6 linked regions of the Homo sapiens genome follow. The protein of the gene in region 4 purifies or fractionates together with the protein of the main gene of each other region. This does not show direct contact. Each region holds a gene or a part of one and is shown on either strand. Other genes may lie near its edges. The genes, in order: CTPS2, CAMK2D, WASF1, CYFIP2, MCOLN2 and PALS1.

The links.
Region 1: the proteins of CYFIP2 (region 4) and CTPS2 fractionate together in Homo sapiens (co-fractionation; one large-scale study listed by BioGRID). This does not show direct contact.
Region 2: the proteins of CYFIP2 (region 4) and CAMK2D purify together in Homo sapiens (co-immunoprecipitation; one large-scale study listed by IntAct). This does not show direct contact.
Region 3: the proteins of CYFIP2 (region 4) and WASF1 purify together in Homo sapiens (affinity purification with mass spectrometry; 2 studies listed by BioGRID and IntAct, with this or other methods). This does not show direct contact.
Region 5: the proteins of CYFIP2 (region 4) and MCOLN2 fractionate together in Homo sapiens (co-fractionation; one large-scale study listed by BioGRID). This does not show direct contact.
Region 6: the proteins of CYFIP2 (region 4) and PALS1 purify together in Homo sapiens (co-immunoprecipitation; one large-scale study listed by IntAct). This does not show direct contact.

The regions. Positions count from the first base shown.
Region 1 is NC_000023.11:16,699,170-16,702,669, reverse strand, and holds part of CTPS2 (CTP synthase 2), read left to right. Parts: intron 1-3,500. UniProt on the Homo sapiens protein: Catalyzes the ATP-dependent amination of UTP to CTP with either L-glutamine or ammonia as the source of nitrogen. Constitutes the rate-limiting enzyme in the synthesis of cytosine nucleotides.
Region 2 is NC_000004.12:113,513,739-113,517,238, reverse strand, and holds part of CAMK2D (calcium/calmodulin-dependent protein kinase type II subunit delta), read left to right. Parts: intron 1-2,047; coding exon 2,048-2,170; intron 2,171-3,325; coding exon 3,326-3,409; intron 3,410-3,500. UniProt on the Homo sapiens protein: Calcium/calmodulin-dependent protein kinase involved in the regulation of Ca(2+) homeostatis and excitation-contraction coupling (ECC) in heart by targeting ion channels, transporters and accessory proteins involved in Ca(2+) influx into the myocyte, Ca(2+) release from the sarcoplasmic reticulum (SR), SR Ca(2+) uptake and Na(+) and K(+) channel transport.
Region 3 is NC_000006.12:110,103,171-110,106,670, forward strand, and holds part of WASF1 (actin-binding protein WASF1), read right to left. Parts: intron 2,410-3,500; coding exon 2,237-2,409; intron 388-2,236; coding exon 208-387; intron 1-207.
Region 4 is NC_000005.10:157,391,623-157,395,122, forward strand, and holds part of CYFIP2 (cytoplasmic FMR1-interacting protein 2), read left to right. Parts: intron 1-1,210; coding exon 1,211-1,378; 3' UTR 1,379-3,500. UniProt on the Homo sapiens protein: Involved in T-cell adhesion and p53/TP53-dependent induction of apoptosis. Does not bind RNA. As component of the WAVE1 complex, required for BDNF-NTRK2 endocytic trafficking and signaling from early endosomes.
Region 5 is NC_000001.11:84,990,614-84,994,113, forward strand, and holds part of MCOLN2 (mucolipin-2), read right to left. Parts: intron 1-3,500. UniProt on the Homo sapiens protein: Nonselective cation channel probably playing a role in the regulation of membrane trafficking events. Acts as a Ca(2+)-permeable cation channel with inwardly rectifying activity.
Region 6 is NC_000014.9:67,303,935-67,307,434, forward strand, and holds part of PALS1 (protein PALS1), read left to right. Parts: intron 1-3,500. UniProt on the Homo sapiens protein: Plays a role in tight junction biogenesis and in the establishment of cell polarity in epithelial cells.

The sequences.
Region 1 (3,500 bases), on a different chromosome or scaffold from region 4:
AATTTCTTTAGGATGTAGTTCCAGATTTAGAGTGACTAGATCGTATGCTATGAATATGTGAATTTTCTCATGGTCATTGATACATTGTTCATACCTCTGATGACATTCCAAATTAATCATCCCTTTTGGAAACATTGTATCTTTTGCACTACAGATTCTGTTTTATTTTTAACATAAAGGTAGTGTGTTTCTCTTAACATTTCCCACTGCCTGGAGTAACTATTATTAATGGTGACATTTTGATGTATGAGTATATTTGATTTATTTTTAAAATGGCATTAGCCCTTACATGCTATTTTTAAAAAACTTTTTATAAGGCCCAGTGCGGTGGCTCATGCCTGTAATCCCAGCACTTTGGGAGGCCGAGGCAGGTGGATCACGAGGTCAGAAGATCGAGACCATCCTGGCTAACACAGTGAAACCCTGTCTCTACTAAAAATACAAAACATTAGCTGGGCGTGGTGGCACGTGTCTGTAGTCCCATCTACTCAGGAGGCTGAGACAGGAGAATCACTTGAACCTGGCAGGCGGAGGTTGCAGTGAGCCAAGATCGAGCCATTGCACTCCAGCCTGGGCGACAGAGCGAGACTCTGTCTCAAAACAAACAAACAAACAAACAAACAAAAACAACAAAAAACCAACCCCCAAAAAAACCTTTTTATATACAAGCAAAAAAGTGCATAAATCATAAGTGTACAGTTGGATGAATTTTCATTAAATGAACACACTGTGTAACCAGCCCCTGATCAAGAAACAGAAATGTTCATGTCCTGCCGGGCGTGGTGGCTCACGCCTGTAATCCTAGCACTTTGGGAGGCTGAGGCGGGCGGATCACGAGGTCAGGAGATCGAGACCGTCCTGGCTAACACGGTGAAACCCCGTCTCTACTAAAAATACAAAAATTAGCCGGGCGCGGTGGCGAGCGCCTGTAGTCCCAGCTACTCGGGAGGCTAAGGTGGGAGAATGGCGTGAACCCAGGAGGCGAACTTGCAGTGAGCCGAGATTGCGCCACTGCACTCCAGCCTGGGTGACAGAGTGAGACTCCATCTCAAAAAAAAAAAAAATGTTTGTGTCCCTTGTTGCTATCCTGTCTTCCTGTTTTTGTTTTTTGAGACAGGGTCTCACTCTATCGCCCAGGCTGGAGTGCAGTGGCCAAGATCTCGGCTCAATGCAACCTCCACCTCCTGTGCTCAAGTGATCCTCCTGCTTCAGTCCCCTGGGTAGCTGGGATTACAGGTGTGCACCACCACACCTGGCTAATTTATGTAATTTTTTTATAGAGCTGGGATTTCGCCATGTTACTTAGGCTGGTCTCGACCTCCTGGGCTCAAGCAATCCTCCTACCTCGGCCTCCCAAAGTGGTGGTATTACAGGCATGAGCCACTGCAACAGGCATGAGCCACTGCACCAGGCCTTGAATATCGTGTTTTAAACTTTACTAACCTGAGAATAAAACAAACAAAAAGAGGGTATCTTATTGTTTTAATTTAGAGTTCTTTGATTTTGATTTTGTTTGTGAATGACTTATTCAAGTCTGTGGTAGATTGTATTTTTGCTTCAAAATGTTACCCACCATCCCTCTGTGGAGTACATTTCCCTGCCCTTTGACCTTGGAGTTTGGCCACGTAGGATAGTTAACTTGTCCTGGTTTGTTTGGAATGTTCCTGATTTTAAAACAGAAAGTCCTGTGTCCTGGGAGCCCTCTTAGTCCTGGGCAAACCAAGCAGGTTGGTCACTCTATTTGGCCATGTGATTTATTTTGTCCTATGGGATGTTAGGGAATATTAACATATGCCTTGTTGAAGCAGAAAATGTCAAATGCATCTGTGTGGTTTGGCTCAGTCTGTCTTGTGCTTCTGCCCTCTACCATGAGAACAGCCTGGTTTTCAGAGATTTCTCGTTCAGTCTGGGTCCTGGAATGAGAAGACACAAAGAATAGACTCACAAGTGACTCATAGCCCCCATGTAACATGAGGGAGAAATAAATAAATGTTTTGTAAGTTGCAGAGATTTTGGGGTTGTTTGTTGTGTGGCACCATTGACTAATGCCATGTGTTACACCAAATTTTCTTTGGATTTTTTTTTAATGATTTTTTTTTTCTTTTTTTGAGACAGAGTCTCACTCTGTCGCCCAGGCTGGAGTGCAGTGGTGTGACCTCGGCTCACTGCAACCTCCGCCTCCCAGGTTCAAGCGATTCTCCTACCCAGCCTGGCAAACATGGCGAAACTCTGTCTCTATTTAAAAAAATAATAGGCCGGGCACGGTGGCTCACGCCTGTAATCGCAGCATTTTGGGAGGCTGAAGCAGGTGGATCACGAGGTCAGGAGATGGAGACCATCCTGGCCAACATGGTAAAAACCTGTCTGTACTAAAAATACAAAAAAATTAGCTGGGTGTGGTGGTGCACACCTGTAATCCCAGCTACTCAGGAGGCTGAGGCAGGAGAATTGCTTGAACCAGGGAGTCAGAGGTTGCAGTGAGCCGAGATCGCACCACTGCACTCCAGCCTGGCGATAGAGTGAGACCCTGTCTCAAAATAATAATAATAATAATAATGGTAATACAAAGATTAGCCAGGCGTGGTAGTACATGTCTGTAATCCCAGCTACTTGGGAAGCTGAGACATGAGAATTGCTTGGATCCAGGAGGCGGAGGTTGCAGTGAGCTGAGATCACGCCACTGCACTCCAGCCTGGTTGACAGCGAAACTCTGTCTCAAAAAAAAACATTGAAAAAAAAAATTGAAAAAAAAAGTATTGTGATATCAATTTGCTTTTTTCCTTAAAATTAATTTTCTAGACCACAGTTATGTACCTTAGAATGGATAAATAAATTAGGATATAAAAGGCTTCTGATTAAATTTGTAAGTTAATCAACCTTTTTTCCTGTGGACATCTAACAGTAGGAATAAATGATAGTTCCCTTAATAGGGGAAAGGTTCAATTCTTACAAGGTGGCTTTAGAAACATACGACTCTCAGTCCATGCCCTGAAGTGACAATAGAGATCTACAGACGTGTCTAGTAGTTAAAGTTGGTGCTCCTCGTGTGACGAAGTCTGCACCTGTCTTTTATGACAGTGCATTGTGCACGTAGCTTATGGCACACACAGGCTTTTTCCCTCACTTTCACCAAGTTGCCTTATGGGTTAGCTGTGGCCTTGCTTTGTCATCTACTGTCTAATTATGGCTTTAATCAAGATGAGAATCAAGTAAAAGTTTCTTATCGCAGTTCCAGAGTCCAGGATACTGATGCTTTGAAGTAAAATGCTGTTTGTTTTTAAAATTTCTGTTTTCATGTCTTTTTTATGTGGCATATGTTGAGTTTGGAAAAGCTAAATCTTGAAGACAGAATTTCAGTAGATTAAAAAAAAACCACAATAGAATATTATAAATAGAATTTTCTGATGCATTTTCTTGGATATAATTGAATTGTTAATATCTCCACCAAAAAGGAGATGGTGATAGAATATGGCTTACAAATACATCTTTTACCAGCTTTT
Region 2 (3,500 bases), on a different chromosome or scaffold from region 4:
TGAATTATATTCTCAAATATCTATCACATAATTTTATATTATATACCAACAATATTTTGCTGTGATCACATATCAAATAGAACATTATCCCACTATACCAGTTTCTGGGTTTTGTTTTTTGTTTTTGTACTGTTTGGGATACTATGCAAGCTTTCATTTGAAGAATGAGTTTCACAATTGAAAAATTTGAAAATCATAATTCTAATAATATATTTAATTTATAATTAGAATATTTGAAAGTAGATATATATATATACATTCATAAATTAAGTTCAGAATCTGAAGAGGAAGGCTTTATCTACTTTCTCTTTATGGCTTAACTTTGTGTTTATGATATAATTTGCTCTCCTTTGATACATATTCTTGTAAATATGATTTACCACTTTCTCAGGTTTCCCCTCATACAGCCCTATGGAAATCCATGTGCAGGGTCTGGGCATGCTTTCCATGTGTTATTAAGTAGAGTAACTACAGAGTAGCAATATTGGGTTCACCTTTTGTGCACAAGTTGAAAGCTCAATGTGAAAGTGAGAGGAGAAGATATAAAATGTCTTTATTATATTCTATAATGTCTCGTGAACTCTTCAATGCATTTCTGATAAAAATTTTCTATTTAGATGGATGTGTGTGTCAGCAAGAATTAAAAATGTATATTCTTTGAATTTCAAAGCATTGCATTATTCCTAGACTAGTAATTGGAACAAATTATTATTTACATGGCAATAGCTAGCACATTCACCATCTTTACAGACTAGAACCAGCCCCTCTCTGGGCAGACGTAGCCCTGAAAATGCACTGCTTGGTATACCTAGAGGAATGCTTTCATGAAAATTAGAGAACTGAGGAAAATGTTCACCTTTCTTCATGCTGAACCTACCGCTCATTTGCTATCAGAAGACCTGTACAACATTAAGAAACAGCCTCGTGTGTTTCTTTAACAGCTCCTAATAGTTAGCAAGCTTTTACAACTGCCAAAGATAAGCTTCAGGAATTAAAAAATGGCAATTGTTTAGCTGGCAAAAATTACAGATATTAGAGTCAATATCATTTTTCTCATGCTTTATTATGCCAGTGAGTCACAAGTTCCCCATTTTAAAACTACTAAAAATGGACTAATTTAATTCCATGACACAGTGGCAATGGCTTTATTTTTCAAGATTGTCCATACAAATTCATGAATTGGGAAAATAACCTGATATTCTATCATTTTGCAACTAATGTGGTGTAAATTTCCCTTCATCGTTGAAGGACAGTATTTCTACTAAATATGCTAATCATATAAAAGTAAGTTAAGTAATTATCACTACAAAAAATAATGTAAAGAAAGGAGAAGTAGCTTTCTTATATAGTCTTAATATAAAAAAGTATTAGTAATGGGAAGTTATAAGATTTGATTACTTTCATATACTTTGGTGAAATTTGTAATTGGGCAGATTAAACTTCTTGAAGGGTTAAAATGAAATCTTGCTGAAGCTCCTGTAGTCTCAGATTCTTCTCACTACAGCACTCCAAGTAGCCCTGATTAATAGGTCAGTTTTGGCACAGGAATTGAAGCTGTTTTATTACCTCTGCTATTACTGCTTATGAGTTGTGAAAGTATATAATACCTCATTTTGAACCTTGGCATAATATCATGATGACATTGGTACATGTAGCAACCTGTTTGCTTTTATTAAGTTTTGCAAATAATTATGAGAAAGATTGTATAAAATTTCATTTTCAGATCAAAGCAGAGATACTTTGAGAAGAATAGAAGATTCTTAAGTTCTTTTTTTCTGAATTTTAAAATGTATTTACCATATGTGATATGCAGCTCAGTACATATGTTGGTCCCTTATCAGATACTCTTTAATATATATAGTTGTCTACATAGAGGGGGAGAATAGATCTAAATGGTTTTATTTATTTTAGATACAACTTAACTTATATAAAAAGTAAATTTATGAAGAAATTCACTACTTGAGGGAATGATTCATGTAGTTGACTCTTCCCTGTTTGATCGAGTGTGTCTATTTTTTAAACTTTTTATAAATTTATATTTTTGAAGTTTCCATCACCAGAATGGGACACGGTGACTCCTGAAGCCAAAGACCTCATCAATAAAATGCTTACTATCAACCCTGCCAAACGCATCACAGCCTCAGAGGCACTGAAGCACCCATGGATCTGTGTAAGTAAAACTTCTCCAAAACTTCAAGAACTAAAATGAAAAATAAGCTCTCCTTTAATATATTGTTTATGGATTTAAAATAGCTTTGCAAAAAAAGATGAAACTCAGAATGAATGAATTTTTGACTCGAGGTGTTTAAGAAAATTAATTTTATGATGGTGAAAAAATGCAATTTTCAGTAGCAAAGTCTGAATTGCATAGATTCTTAAATAAATATTGCTTGCAGTAACAAAAGGAATGAGTATTCTCCATATCAATTATTAACAATACTCATGAACAAGGTTAAGAAAATAACACCAAAATTAAATGTGTCCCAGAAGAAAAGATTTAACAAAGTTCAATTATTTATCATTAGGCAACTTTAGAAACAAGTATGAAGTTTGGCAGCTGACAGTAGAGTTTCAGTGGCGTAAAATAATGGTCATAGTAGTCTGAATATATTTTAGAAATATTAAGAAGAATAGTGTGAAATTTGAGGGGGATCTGGAGACTTCAGTAAATTTCCAAATGTGTCAAATGCTAAGGTGATAAATGTGGCACTAAGTAAATGAAAGGCAGCTCAATCAAAATGTGATTGAAGACATTAAAATAAAGATAATTTGAGAAATTATTAATATTCATTTCTATACTTTCTGGTTTGGTTTTGTTTTGTTTTGAGACAGAGTCTTGCTCTTGTCACCCAGGCTGGAGTGCAATGGCACGATCTTGGCTCACTGCAACCTCCACCTCCCAGGTTCAAGCAATTCTCCTGTCTCAGCCTCCCGAGTAGCTGGGATTACAGGTGCCCACCACCACGCCCGGCTAATTTTTGTATTTTTAGTAGAGATGCGGTTTCGCCATGTTGGCCAGGCTGGTCTCAAACTCCTGACCTCGTGATCCACCCGCCTTGGCCTTCCAAAGTGCTGGAATTACAGGCGTGACCCACCGCGCCCGGCCCATTTCTATACTTTCTATACGTCAGTGTTGCATCTTGGTCACAAGTAGTCTTGGCAAAACTAAAATTTTATTTTTAGGTAACTTTGGCAATTGAATACTTAGAAGTTGATCCTGCAGGTGCAGCACCATTAATAAATATTTGATGAAGTCAGGGACATTATTATACTTAGTGTGTTTTAAATATTCTCAATTAAGTTACTTTTTCTCCTCTTCTTCTAGCAACGTTCTACTGTTGCTTCCATGATGCACAGACAGGAGACTGTAGACTGCTTGAAGAAATTTAATGCTAGAAGAAAACTAAAGGTAAGAAATTTTACATTTTTATGGGGAGGTAGATTTGACAGACTAAGAAGTGAAATACTGTGTGAGGAAAATAACTTCTAGCAAAGGCTTT
Region 3 (3,500 bases), on a different chromosome or scaffold from region 4:
TGTTTTTATAAATAGAGTTTATTTCAACACAGACACATTCATTTGTTTATGTATATTCTATGGTGGCTTTCATGCAACAATGGCAGAATTGAGTACTTGTGACAAAAACTGTAAGGCCCGAAAGCCAAAAATACTTACTATATCGTCCTTGAAAGAAAAAGCTTACTGACTCCTAAGATAAAACATCATATGCTTGTTCCAACATACCTGATACAGGTGGGTATCGGTTTTGCATCTCCTGCTCCATGCATTGGTGGAGGTGGAGGTGGTTCATGTGGTCTGACTAATACCCTTTCCTCAGCTCTAGTCAGAAGCTCACTCATCTGACTAAATGGCAAGGCAGAAAGTGAGTAAGATCCATCCATATGATCCACGTATGTCTGAGGTCTAAAAGAAATATATAGTATCAGTGAATTATTCTTGAATTATTGGGAGGAAAGGGTTCTACATGAGATATTAAATATTTAAAGTTTATCCTTTCAATGCCAATATTTTAACTATTTTTAAGAAACTTTCAGAAATGTATTATATTAATCCTGCTTTTAAAACAAAGAATGCTGCTCACAATATAACCCTTACTTGTTGATTTAGAGATCTACTATGATGACCATCGGTTATTTTATTATTTTATAACAGAATACTAATTCAACTCACAGGATGAAAAGCATTACGTACGTAATTTAATAAACAAGAAAATAATTAACTTTTAGCAAATTGTGTGGAAAGCTATCTGCCTCTATTTAGTTCTTTACAAGAAGATGCCAATGACAGAAAGGTAGAATAGGAAAATGAGTTTTCTACTACTAGTATATCTCGGTGTGCTCTTAAACTTAAATGACTTCTAAAAGTCTTGCACCAGAGAGAAAGGCCTCCCAGATACTAGCAGCACAGAGGTGGCTAGCTATATTGTTTCTGTCCTTCTGCTGTTTTCAAAGGTGCAAGGGTACTCAGAAAATAGCTGAGTAACATAGCAACATGTGACTTAGATGTAAGCAAAATTTTAGATAACTCGAACATGTTAAGATTTATAAATATTTGCTAGTACATTCTTGGGAAAAAGTTGGATTTAACAGATGTGCACACAGCAAGTCAGAAATTATTGTATTTAGTGAGTCAGATAAGTACCTTAATTACTCAACTGTAGTAGAAATAAATGTCTAAAGTTTATTAATTTTTTAATGTCAATTCTTTCAGTAATACAGATAAATAGTATCTCTCAGATGTATATTTCTCCTAAAATAGGTCAAGATGTTGCACACTTATGGCCCAATCATTTATATGTATATTACTTAAAAGAAAACCTTAAGCTCTTTTCCATTAAAAAATCATATGACTAGGCTGGGCACAGTGGCTCACACATGCAATCCCAGCACTTTGGGAGGCTGAGACAGGCAGATCACTTGAGGTCATGAGTTCAAGATCAGCCCGGCCAACATGGTGAGACCCCATCTCTACTAAAAATACAAAAATTAGCTGGGCGTGGTGGCGTGTGCCTGTAATCCCAGCTACTTGGGAGGCTGAGGTGGGAGAATCGCTTGAACCCAGGAGGCAGAGGTTGCAGTGAGCTGAGAGCACACCACTGCACTCCACCCTGGGCGATAGAGCAAGATTCTGTCTCAAAACAAACAAACAAACGTATGACTATACCCAAATAAGTGTCTTCGTAGACAGATGCCAGTTTAATGTGTTTGCTGGTAGTATGTTATTTAGTTAGGGCCCCTGGCCACTAAGAAAGGAAAAAATCTTTTCTACAAAAGGGATCAATACTTTTGTTTGAAAGTCCTAATATATCTGAGGTGGGCAATGTGGCAAAGAAAGGAAGTCAGGGGAAAGTAAAAGGAACAAAACAGAACCCCTTCTTCACTCCTATTTTATATGCAATAAATCAACAGTATTTCAAAAAAACCCCAGACCCTAAACTTTTATTACAAAATTCTAGCAGACTGTGCCTGAAATATCGAGAGGCTATTGAGACGTCACACTAAAGCTAAAACCCTAAAGATCAGCCACTCCAACCACTTCTTTCTAAGATGACAAAACTAAGGTCCAGGTATGAAAATGACCTGCTCAAGGCCTGACTTTAGTAGGCTCACAGTGGTCAGGATTTTGAAATAATCTCTATATTTATAACAGGGTCTGCCTGTTCAACAGTTTAGGACTCAAGACTTAGAAGTACAGATACTACAAATAAAGCCAATGTTTTATCATTTAAAAAAAAAAACAAAAGTAAAGAAACCTTGTTTCAAAATGAGAGGCTGGGCCATTAGCAACTTCAATATGCTTATGTAAGAGATTAGCATCATCTTCAGCCAGCTCTGGACCTTGGGCCAGCTTCTGCCATTCTCGCCGCCTGTCATGAGGTGCTCTTGGCACTTTTTCTGGTTCATGAGGACGATCTAGATTTTTCTGCTATAACAGATGTATTGAAACAAAGTCAAATGCTTAAGCGCTAATTTTTAAAAAGGAGGTTATAACAATCAAATTAAACTCTAACATCAACACTGAAAAAGACAATGTCATCATAATATAGTAAAAGTAACACAGAAATGGTTTACTTGTACATTCAGTTAAATCTTAGCCAGTCTGCTGTAATCCCAGTTTCCTGCCATGTTTTGTTTAACCCCTAATTTGAACTGATGCACCAGACACAAAACAGTATGCCTAAAGAATACAATTTGAGGTCAGAAAGTCTTTCAGATGAAAAAAGACTCATGAACCCTTGCTCCACAGGCATTAGTTTGAAATTTCTACGATGAATGGCATTGTCTGCCCCTAATCAAAACGTAACAATTTACTAAGGTTATGTTATCTGGGAAGTAACTGATTAGCTAGCCAACACATTAGAAAAAAATCCAATTATCTAATTAACCGATAATAACTATATCACTCAACAGAAAACATTGTCTTTAAACAATAAAACAAAAAGTGATTCAAAACTGGGGGAGAAAGTACAGAAAGGGCTAGAGTAAGTGTAACAAATTCAAACGCCCAAAGCGGCCAAGCGGATAACATACATGAATGAAGCCAGTCGGGTGTAAGATGGGGCATGAGGTGAGCTAGACAGACATGTCCATCTCAGGCACTCTAGTTCCAAAATTTAAAAACCTCTGTGTTTGGCAAACAAAACACTCCCTACAGGCATAATCTGGCTTGCCAGTCACCAATTTGCAAATGTTAGCTAGAACACTGGGTTACCATCTAGCAAAGAAGACAATACAATGGCATTATACAGGGATTAGGGAAAGCAGAGATAGCTACAGGAGAACCAGAGAGATGATAAAGACAGAATTTGCCTCCTTCATAATTCAACCTAAATCTAACTTTGCTTCATCCTTCTGTGTTTTCAGTTATCATTAACATGAAATATAAAGCAGATACAAGTGAATTTTATTAGAAAGTGGAAAATGACAATAACAGAAATTTCATGTGAATATAATAACCTCTCCAAAACATTTAGGAGAGAAATGTTTAGGATGTGCTCTGTAGCAACAAAATACTAG
Region 4 (3,500 bases):
TATGGCTGTATAATATTGCATTGTGTATATAGACCACGTTGTGTTTGTCCACTCAGGTTGCTGTCACCTTTTGGGTATTTTTGAAAATGGTTAATTTTGGCTACCATGAAACATGGGTGTACAAATAACTCTACAAATTTCTGCTTTCCATTCTTTTGAGTATATACCTGGACGTGGAATTGCTGGATCGTATGGTAATTCTATGTTTAACTTTTTAGAAACTGCCATTCTGTTTTCCATAGTGGCTGCACAATTTTACATTCCCACCAGCAGTACACAAGAGTTCCAATTTCTCCACATCCTCATCAGCACTTATTCTTTAATAATAGTCATCCTGAGGGGTGAAAAAGTTATCTTGTTGTGATTTTGATTTGAATTTCCCTAATGACTGTCACTGCTGAGTGCTATATTCATGTGTTATTGGCCATTTGTATATCTTCTTTAGAAAAATGTCTATTCAAGTCCTTTGTCCATTTTTTTAATTGAGTCATTTTTGTTGAGTTGAAGTTCTTTACATATTCTAGATATTACTTATCAGATATAATTTGTGATTATTTTCTATTTTTCGGTTGCCTTTTCATTCTCATGGTGTCCCTTTGATGCATGAAAGTTTTCAATTTTGATGTAGTGCAACTTTTTGCCTTTGCTTTTGATGTCATACCCCAAGATATTATTGCCAAATCCAACATCATGAAAATTTTTCCCCTATATTCTCTTTTAAGAATTTCAGTTTAATCTCATGGTTACGTCTCTAATCCATTCTGAGTTAATTTTTTGTATATGGTATAAGGTAAGCGTCCATTGTTATTTTTTGTGTGGGTATCCATATTTCCCAGCACCTTTTGTTGAAAAGGCTGTTTCCCCCATTGAACAGTCTTGGCACCCTTGTTGAAAATCATTTGATCATATGTGTAATAGTGTATTTCTGGGCTCTCTATTCTGTTTTATTCATCTGTACATCTACCTTTTTACCAGTGCCACAGTGTTGTTGATTATTGTAGCTCTGTAGATCGTTTTAAAACTTGGAGAGGGTTTTTACGGTCCAGTTAACACTTGATTGCCAGATCCAGGGGATTCCATAAAAGGACTTTAAGAAAGTGACATGATCACTGATGCAGGGGACCCTGGACCTCAGTGACTTCTCCTGTTACTCCCTCTTTCCACCCCCACTTTGTCCTGCCCTAACTTGAACATCCCCTTCCTTCTGTAGCCCCTGAAGAAGATGGCCGACCGGATCAGGAAGTATCAGATCTTGAACAATGAGGTTTTTGCCATCCTGAACAAATACATGAAGTCCGTGGAGACAGACAGTTCCACTGTGGAGCATGTGCGCTGCTTCCAGCCACCCATCCACCAGTCCTTGGCCACCACTTGCTAAGCAGAAGATCCTGCAGACCCTTATCTGGAGGAGGAAGAGAAGCAGGAGAGAGAAAGCCACAGCCAGCCTGCCATAGGATCCAACTGGACAACGTGTGGGATGGACCTGGAAACAAGCACCTCCCCAAACACATCACCACTCCCTAGGGCGGGGCCTGTGCATGCTCTCCCATGACATCTCCATGCTGGTTTCTCCATAGCATAAATGAAAAAAAAAAAAAAAAAGTAAACAGGGCAGTGTGTGCTTTTTCTTTTCTCCCCCCTCAACTATATTAAGAACTCCTAGTTTCACCCTTTCTCCATCCCATCATCCCACCTATCTGTGGTTGCTTCCCAAGACCTCCTCCCAAGATAGACATCTCCTACCCAGTGCCCTTGTGTGACCCCAGGACTCAAGTCTCAGACTGTGAACAGATGTGGCCATGCCCAGAGACGCCAGCCTGGCCAGAAGGGCATGCCTCAGCTTACTACTTCATCTCTCCTGGTTCCCTCCCTGCAGTGCCCCGGGTGTCATCTTCTCCCACTCTGGGTACCAGGGATTCTACCACATAGGCTTCCCAAAGCCCCATTCTAACTCCCCTCTCTCAGGGAAGCCCTAGAGAGAGGTCCAAAAAGCATTCACAGCTGTATCACACTCTATGCAGGTGGGGTAGGAGACTGATCAGGCCTGCTGTGGGGAAGCAGTATGTATGAACACAGCCAGAAATGTCATAGTCCAAACAGGATGCTTTCAGGCCATCTCAGCTGCTTGATGGTGAGATGGTTCCCTTATTCCTTCAGGAAAGGCTTAGCATTGGGCCACATAGGGGAAGCAGCTTTGAACAAATCAGTCATAGCACTGCCTATAGCATTAGCCAGTGACCAAATTAGGGACAACGTCTTGGCACAGAATTGCTTATCAAGGAACATTTCCACAAGAAAGAAAATATTAAGGGGTTATTTCCACAGAAGCCCAAAACGTCTTGGAAACACAGAGGTGAGGAGGAGGAATAGTAATTGTCAATGAGCTTTTAATACCAAGATACACCCCCTGCCCCCAAAGAAGAGTCCTCTTTTAGGGAATCAGAACCTTCATTGTCCTAGAAGCTGAAAGATTCTTGGAACATTTTAGCTTTTACTCTCAACTTGCTGTTCTCTTTACATTCCTTAAGTTAGACTTTCGGGTGTGGCTTCTCTCCCAGGGGTAACATTTACTTCCATTTTCTAGACTGAACCAAAAGTCTTCTGCAGAATCTCCCACCGAGTGTGGTAAGAAGGAAGGACAAAAGGCTTTAGGATATAAATTTCATGTTACAGAGCATGTCATTGTCAAAGGAAATCTGTGGCCCTGAGATTTTAAGAACATAAAATGTGACATTTGATATTTCTCCAGCCCAGGGAAGTAAGATGGTTAGCAATGGTTGCCTTAATCAAATGGTCCCATTTTTAACCCCAAAGGAAGTGCCCACAGCAAGAGGTTTGTGTGATGCACTTATGTCCTCCGGTGAGGAAAGGGGGCCACATATGAAAGGCCCCTTAGGTCAGATCCTGAGAGTAGCACATTTGAGTGCAGATTCCTGGGCCCCACCTCAAACCTACTAATTCTGAATCTCTGGGAATAGGGCCAGGAAATCTGCCCTTTCTACAAACTACCCAAGTTGTTCTGTTGCACATCAATGTTTGGGAACCACTGCTGTAAGGGAATCATTCTGGTCACCTTGAGCTTTGAGCTACCACTAAGCCATGAAAGAAAATACATCATACAGGGAAGAGAGAAGGGAGGAGGTTCCAAGTAGTAACTGGCAGATCCTCCTGTCTGGAGGTACCACCTTCTATTCTGGTTTCTGACTTTTCCTTCTTGATGACCATAGATGTGTTCCAGAGGCAAAAGAGACACATTATCCCAGATGGCAGAACATGCTTTCAAAACATATAAAATGTCAAAGTTCCAGATCCTTCTACATCTTTAGTCCTGTCTGAGGATGGTAGCTGGCTCTCTGTAGCTGATAGATGGCTAGAGTTCCATCCAAATCCTTGACCACGACTTCATGGAGATTTGAATAATCTATTTGATGAGATTTCTATTTCAATAACCCACCTCTCTCACCCCACATTCATATCCCTAAATTTGACCCTCTGGGCCG
Region 5 (3,500 bases), on a different chromosome or scaffold from region 4:
TTTTTCAAAAAATGTCAGCATAAGCTGGGCATGGTGGCTTAGGCCTGTAATCCCAGAGCTTTGGGAAGCTGAGGCAGGAGGATCCCTTGGGCCCAGGAGTTTGAGACCAGTCTGAGCAACATAGGGAGACCCCCATCTCTAGAAATAATAATAATAATTAATAATAATAAGCTAGCCAGGAGTGGTGGCAGGCACCTGTAGTCCCAATTACTTGGGGGGGCTGAGGCAGGAGGATCGCTTGAGCCTTGAAGTTTGAGGCTGCAGTAAGCTGTCATTGTGCCACTGCACTCCAGCCTGGGTGACAGAACACGACCCAGGCTGGAAAAAAAAAAGCTAGCATTTATATGTGTATATAGACATTTTAAAGTCTAGAAGCATGTGAGCCAGCCAAAAAAGCCTCCATATTTTTATAATCTCTGTGAAGTAGTATTATAGGTAATCTTAATTTTCTTCATTAAGTTTTCCATATTTTTTTCATTTTTGGTGGTTAACGTATGAATTCTTGAGTTATTATTATGAGTTAAAATGGGCCATTTCAAAAAGAAAGAGTCTGGTATGTATCAGCTAGTCAGGTATTTCCCTGCCTTAGTTTGTGCACGACTGGTTTGGGGTAGAGGGTGGAAGAAGTGATAGATACGGAGACTAAAATTCAATGTTTCTACAGTAATGACTGTGTTGGCCCCAGGATAATACCAGGGGCAGTTCAACAGATAAAATGCTTTAGACCATTCCTAACAACTCGCACGTCATTTTTTCACTCCAATTCCTACGATGAACAAATTTTCTCGTGATCTGCTAGTCTCACAAGAGAGGAAGAAAGAAAAATATCTAGCCAACTGAGGTTTTGAGGTAGCTGAGTAGGGCAGGCAGATGTCAATTAAGTGAAGTTGAGGGGAAAAAAGGCAAAGAAGAAAACTTTGGTTCCCTTCTCAGCACAGCTCTCAGAACATAAATGACATGGTCATTCTAACCCTAAGAAGCCCCCTGAAGAAAGGCCATAGGGGCTTTTCATTTTCCATTAGAGCCACTCATGAAAGATGAACATGCTAACCCTTCAGGAGTTTTCCTACAGACAACCGTGCCACCAAGTTCCTAAAAATCACCTCTGATCACCACTTTGCTGCCTCTGAACACCAGGAAAGCAGAACTAGGGCTGCATACTTTTAAAGTGCTTCTTCTAAACAAGCCACACTCCTTTGGAAACTAGAAGAAACAGTTCTCTGAGGAAGAGATAAAGAAAGGGAAACTCCATTTCTCAGCAATAAAGGATTCCACATGCAGTTAAAACTGAGGAAGATGACTGGAATTATGACATTTCCTAACATTTTTCTTTCTCCAATATTTTCAGTAAGAGCCCAACTTAATAGAGTCATGCTGATGACTCTCCCTAAGGAAAAGAAATTATAAAGAAATAATCATTTTTTCCTCAAAGCATTGAGGTTACCTTAATTTTGGACAAGCCCAACTCAGTTTCATGTTGGTGAATCCCTACATTCTAGCTATCTCTAGAAAATCCCTGTAGTTGGCATAAGTAGTACAATTTTTTAAGGCCACCATTTAAATTGTGGGTCTTCTAGAATTACACCAAAGACTATTTTCAAGAATCTTCTGCCTCATGAGTTATCAATTATTGCCTCGCAGATGTTTTAGGCTGAAATTACAGAGATGTATTCAAGGGGAGAAAACAAAACACAACCTTCAAAAGAGAAGAAAGGAAACAGCCCACCCAGCTGAGGGAAAAGGAATATGGACAACATTCGCTGGACACAGTCTCTCATACCAGGAAAAAAGGGGCTGAGGCCCAAGCTCAAAACAGAGTAGAAAGCTCAGCTATAGGCAGGCTGAGAAGAACGGGAAGAAAAAAAAATTCAGATGATTGCCAAAGCAAACAAATAAACAAACCAAAAACATGGCTGTAAACATTTAATACTGAACAGAACATTGTAGTTTGATAAGATGAAGTCTGGAAATAAAATTACAGGCACACCTCAGAGATATTGCAAGTTTGGTTCCAGATCACCACAATAAAGCAAATACTGCAGTAAAGCAAGTCACACAAATTTTTTGGTTTTCCAGTGCATATAAAAGTTATGTTTACACTATACCATAGTCTATTAAGTCTGCAATAGCATTATGTCTAAAAAAACCACCTTAATTTAAAAGTACTTCATACTAAAAAATGCTAACAATCATCTGAACCTTCAGCAAGCTGTAATCTTTTTGCTGGTGGAGGGTCTTGCCTCCTTGTTGATGGCTGCTGACTGATCAGGGTGGTGGTTGCTGAAGGCTGGGGTGGTTAGGGCAATTTCTTAAAAGAAGACAACAATGAAGTCTGATATATCAATTAACTCTTCCTGTCACAAAATATTTCTCTGTTGCATGCAACGCTGTTTGATTGCATTTTACCTACAGTAGAACTTCTTTCAAAATTGGAGTCAGTCCTCTCAAACCTTGCTGCTGTTTTATCAACTATGTTTACGGAATATGCTAAATTATGTGTTGTCATTTCAACAATGTTCATAGCATCTTCACCAAGAGTAGATTCCATCTCAAGAAACCACTTTCGTTGCTCATCCATAACAAACAACTCCTCATCCATTCTAGTTTGATCATGAGATTGCAGCAATTCTGTCACATCTTCAGGCTTCTCTTCTAGTTTTCTGGGTATTTCCACCACATCTGTGGTTAGCAGATCGCTGCAAAAGTAATTGTGTTTTTTTGCCATTAAAAGTAAGGACAAAACCCACAATTACTTTTTCACTGACCTAATACTTCCTCTACTGAAATCTGGACCCCTTCAAAGTCATCCATGAGGGATAAAATCAACTTCTTCCAAACTCCTGTTAATGTTAATATTTTGACCTATTCCCATGAATCATGAATATTCTTAATGGCATCCATGATGATGAATCCTTTCCAGAAGGGTTTACTTTGTCCAGATTCATCAGAGGAATAATTTTCGATGGCAACCTATAATGTTACAAAATGTAGTTCTTAAATAATGTCTTTTTTTTTTTTTTTTTTTTTTGAGACGGAGTCTCGCTCTGTCGCCCAGGCCGGACTGCGGACTGCAGTGGCGCAATCTCGGCTCACTGCAAGCTCCGCCTCCCGGGTTCACGCCATTCTCCTGCCTCAGCCTCCCGAGTAGCTGGGACTACAGGCGCCCGCCACCACGCCCGGCTAATTTTTTGTATTTTTAGTAGAGACGGGGTTTCACCTTGTTAGCCAGGATGGTCTCGATCTCCTGACCTCATGATCCACCCGCCTCGGCCTCCCAAAGTGCTGGGATTACAGGTGTGAGCCACCGCGCCCGGCCAAATAATAAGTCTTGAAAGTTGAAATTACTCCTTGATCCATGGGCTGCAGAATGGATGTTGTGTTAACATATATGAAAACAACATTCATCTCCTTGTACATCTCCATCAGAACTTTTCAATGATCAGAGGTATTATCAATGAGCAGTAATATTTTGAAAGAAATCTTTTTTTCTGAGCAGTAGG
Region 6 (3,500 bases), on a different chromosome or scaffold from region 4:
TTTTTGTATTTTTGGTAGAGACAGGGTTTTGCCATGTTGGCCAGGCTGATCTTGAACGCCTGGCTTCATGTGATCTGCCTGCCTCGGCCTCCCAAAGTGCTGGGATTACAGGTGTGAGCCTTCACATCCAGCCAACTCTGCACCTTTTTAAAATAAAAAGTAGAAAATAATTTCAGTTTCAGAATTTTTTTTATAGTTATAGGTGGGTTTACTTAACTTAGTATGGAGTAGGGCAAGTGCTTTTTAAAAAGTATGTGTAACCCTTCTTTTAGAGTATATTGTTCTGTTAGACATTTACTCAGCTAGATCTGTTAAAAGTCAGTCTCCATTACCATACAGTCAAGCAATTGCATTCCAAAGTATATATCCAAAAGGACTGAAAACATATATTCACATAAGAATGTCTACATGAATGTTCATAGCAGCAGCATTCACAGTAGCTAGAAAGTAGTAACAACCCAAATGTCTGTCAGGTGATGAATCAAAGACAAAATATGTATGTATGATGGGATATTATTTGATAATTTTAAAAGCCTACAGTACTGATATATGCTACAACATGGATGAACCTTGAAGAAATTATGCTGAGCGAAGGAAGCCAGTCACAAAAGGCCATATATTGGTTCATTTATATAAAATGTCCAGAATAGGTAAATCCATAGGAGAGAAAGCAGATTAGTAATTCCTTAGATGTGGAGATGAGGATTTATGAGGGAATGGTGATTACTAATCAGTACCAAGTTTCTTTTTGAGGGCATAAGTATGTTTTAAAATTGTTTGTGGTGATAATTGTACAAATCTGTGAATAAACTAAAACCATCCAATTGTGTACATGAGTGAATTGTATATGAATTATATATCAATAAAGCTATTTAAAAATGAAACTTTAAAGTGTTGAATTAACATGGAAGCTTGATGTATTGCATCTGTTATTCTTAACTTTAAAGCATAGCAGTTTGAGAAAGAACACAGTTTCATTTTTCTCTCAATATTTCATCACAGGTATGCTTTATAGTTTGGCTATCATTCCATGTTTTCCCTTAATTTTTTACAGAACATACGGAAGTTGATATTGTATCTGCAACCTACTTTATGTTTACAGTTTTTTTGCAGGAAGAGAAATGAGGAAATATAGTTTGTCTTTGAATTTAAACAGCTTGATTCTCTGTGCATTGTGCTGTTCCCTGTATCTCTTCTGTGTATAAGCCCTGAACTTCAAAAGTAGCTCTGCAAACTGAGGAAACATAACAGAGGAGGGTTGGAATATACTCCTACTTACTTATCTACAATAATCCATCCCTCCTGAGTAAATGACTTTTGTCTTTTGAGAATAAATGTCAGAAGTTAAGACATTTTTTTTTTTTGAGGTGGGATCTGGCTCTATTATCCAGGCTGGAGTGCAGTGATGTGATCACGACTCCTGCAGCCTTGACTGCCTGGGCTCAAGCAGTCCTCCTACCTCAGCCTCCCTAGTAGCTGGAAACACAGATGCATACTACCACATCCGGCTAATTTTTTTGTACTTTTGGTAGAGATGGCTTTCACTATGTTGCCCAGGCTAGTCTCGAACTCCTGAGCTCAAGTGGTCCACCCGCCTCGGCCTCCCGAAGTGTTGGGATTACAGACGTGAGCCACAATGCCCAGCCAAGACATGTTTTCTCAACATTTTTTTCCTGCTATTCATGCAGAATCTGGAATTCTGTAAAAGAAAAGCCATTTTTTTCATGGATAGAATTAATCGAAGTGTTACATTGAAACTTGTTGATTCTCGTTGTATGCAAAACAGAATATCAAAGCAATTAACTTACACAGATTGTTTCAACCTAAGAATGAAATAACTTACTTATCCTTTAGTGGTTATTTAACCCCCAACTTTCATTATTGATTAAGAATAAAAGGCTGGTTTAATCTGAAGACCAAAGGAATATAGGTTCATGGTGAACAATCTCTGGAACTACTTAACTGGAAAATGAAGTAGCTTAAAAAGGAAGAAAGTGGGAGAAAGAGCAAAATGCCACATCTATCCCTTTTAAAATGGAGCTTTTTCTGTTCTTTTTACTTGGAGTCTCACTCTTGTCACCGAGGCAAGCAGTGGCACCATCTGGGCTCACTGCAACCTCCGCCTCCCAGAGTCAAGCAGTTCTCCTGCTTCAGCCTCCCTAGTAGCTGAGACTACAAGTGCATGCCACCACATCCAGCTAATTTTTGTATTTTTAGCAGAGATGGGGTTTCACTATGTTGGCCATGCTGGTCTCGAACTCCTGACCTCAGGTGATCTGCCCGCCTTGGCCTCCCAAAGTGCTGGGATTACAGGCATGAGCCACCGAACCCGGCCTATTTTCATATTTAAAGTAGGGATCTTTTCAGAATAGAGTGATGTGCAGTATTTTTCTTTTCCTTCTTTTCTCTTTTGTTTTTTGTTTTTTTTGAGACAGAGTCTTGCTCTGTCGCCCAGGCTGGAGTACAGTGGTGCGATCTTGGCTCACTGTAACCTCTGCCTCCTGTGTTCAAGCATTCTCCTGACTCAGCCTCCCAAGTAGCTGGGATTACAGGCGCCCGCCACCATGCCTGGCTGAATTTGTGTGTGTGTGTGTGTGTGTGTTTGTGTATTTTTAGTAGAGACAGAGTTTCACCATGTTGGCCAGGCTGGTCTTGAACTCCTGACCTCTGATGATCCGCCCACCTTGGCCTCCCAAGTGCTGGGATTACAGGCATGAGCCACCATGCCCAGCCCCTTCTTTTCTCTTTTTATTATGAATAACTCTCAATTGCAATATATCTTGCCAAGTTTTGTCAGACCTAACTGGCTTAAAATGAACTGCTATTATTAAAGCTCATTGAGGCTGTCCAGAAAGGAAACAGTAATAGGAAATCATAATCTTGGTTGACATATGCAGAATAATTATCTATGGAATTAATAATCTAAAGAAATTAGAACCAATTTATTGAGTATCATTATGGTACAGGTCAGCATCTGTTGATAGCAGCAGCAGCAGATATCTTCCTGATTTATGTTTTGTGATGTTAGAAATGTGTTTAAGACAGATATACAAAATAAGTGTTATCTGAAACCCCTATATAATGACTTGTTGAATTATGATGTCATGTATGGCAATAATAAGCTGTGTCAGAAGTGCTCTCTTGAGTTCTTAAATTTCTTTTGTATCACACATAGCAATCAGTGGCTGCTCTTTCAGTAGCAGAGGGCAAGAGTCTTGGCACCTCTGTATTTCACTTCCTGAGTAACTGGCACATTTGATCTAGGAAATGCATACATTATTCAAACGTACAGTTTCCTTCTCTCGGCCTTTTTAAAAAAAGGAAGGATTGGATTTCCCAGACTAGTTTGTAAAACTTTAGATTATTCTATACTATAATAATATGTAGGGAGGGCATAATAGACTTTTATCTGAATGGGACTTTTTCATTTAGTCTAATGCCATAATCTAACAAGGAGTGTATTTAAATGAAGAAGGATCACATCGCTTATTAGTTACAGA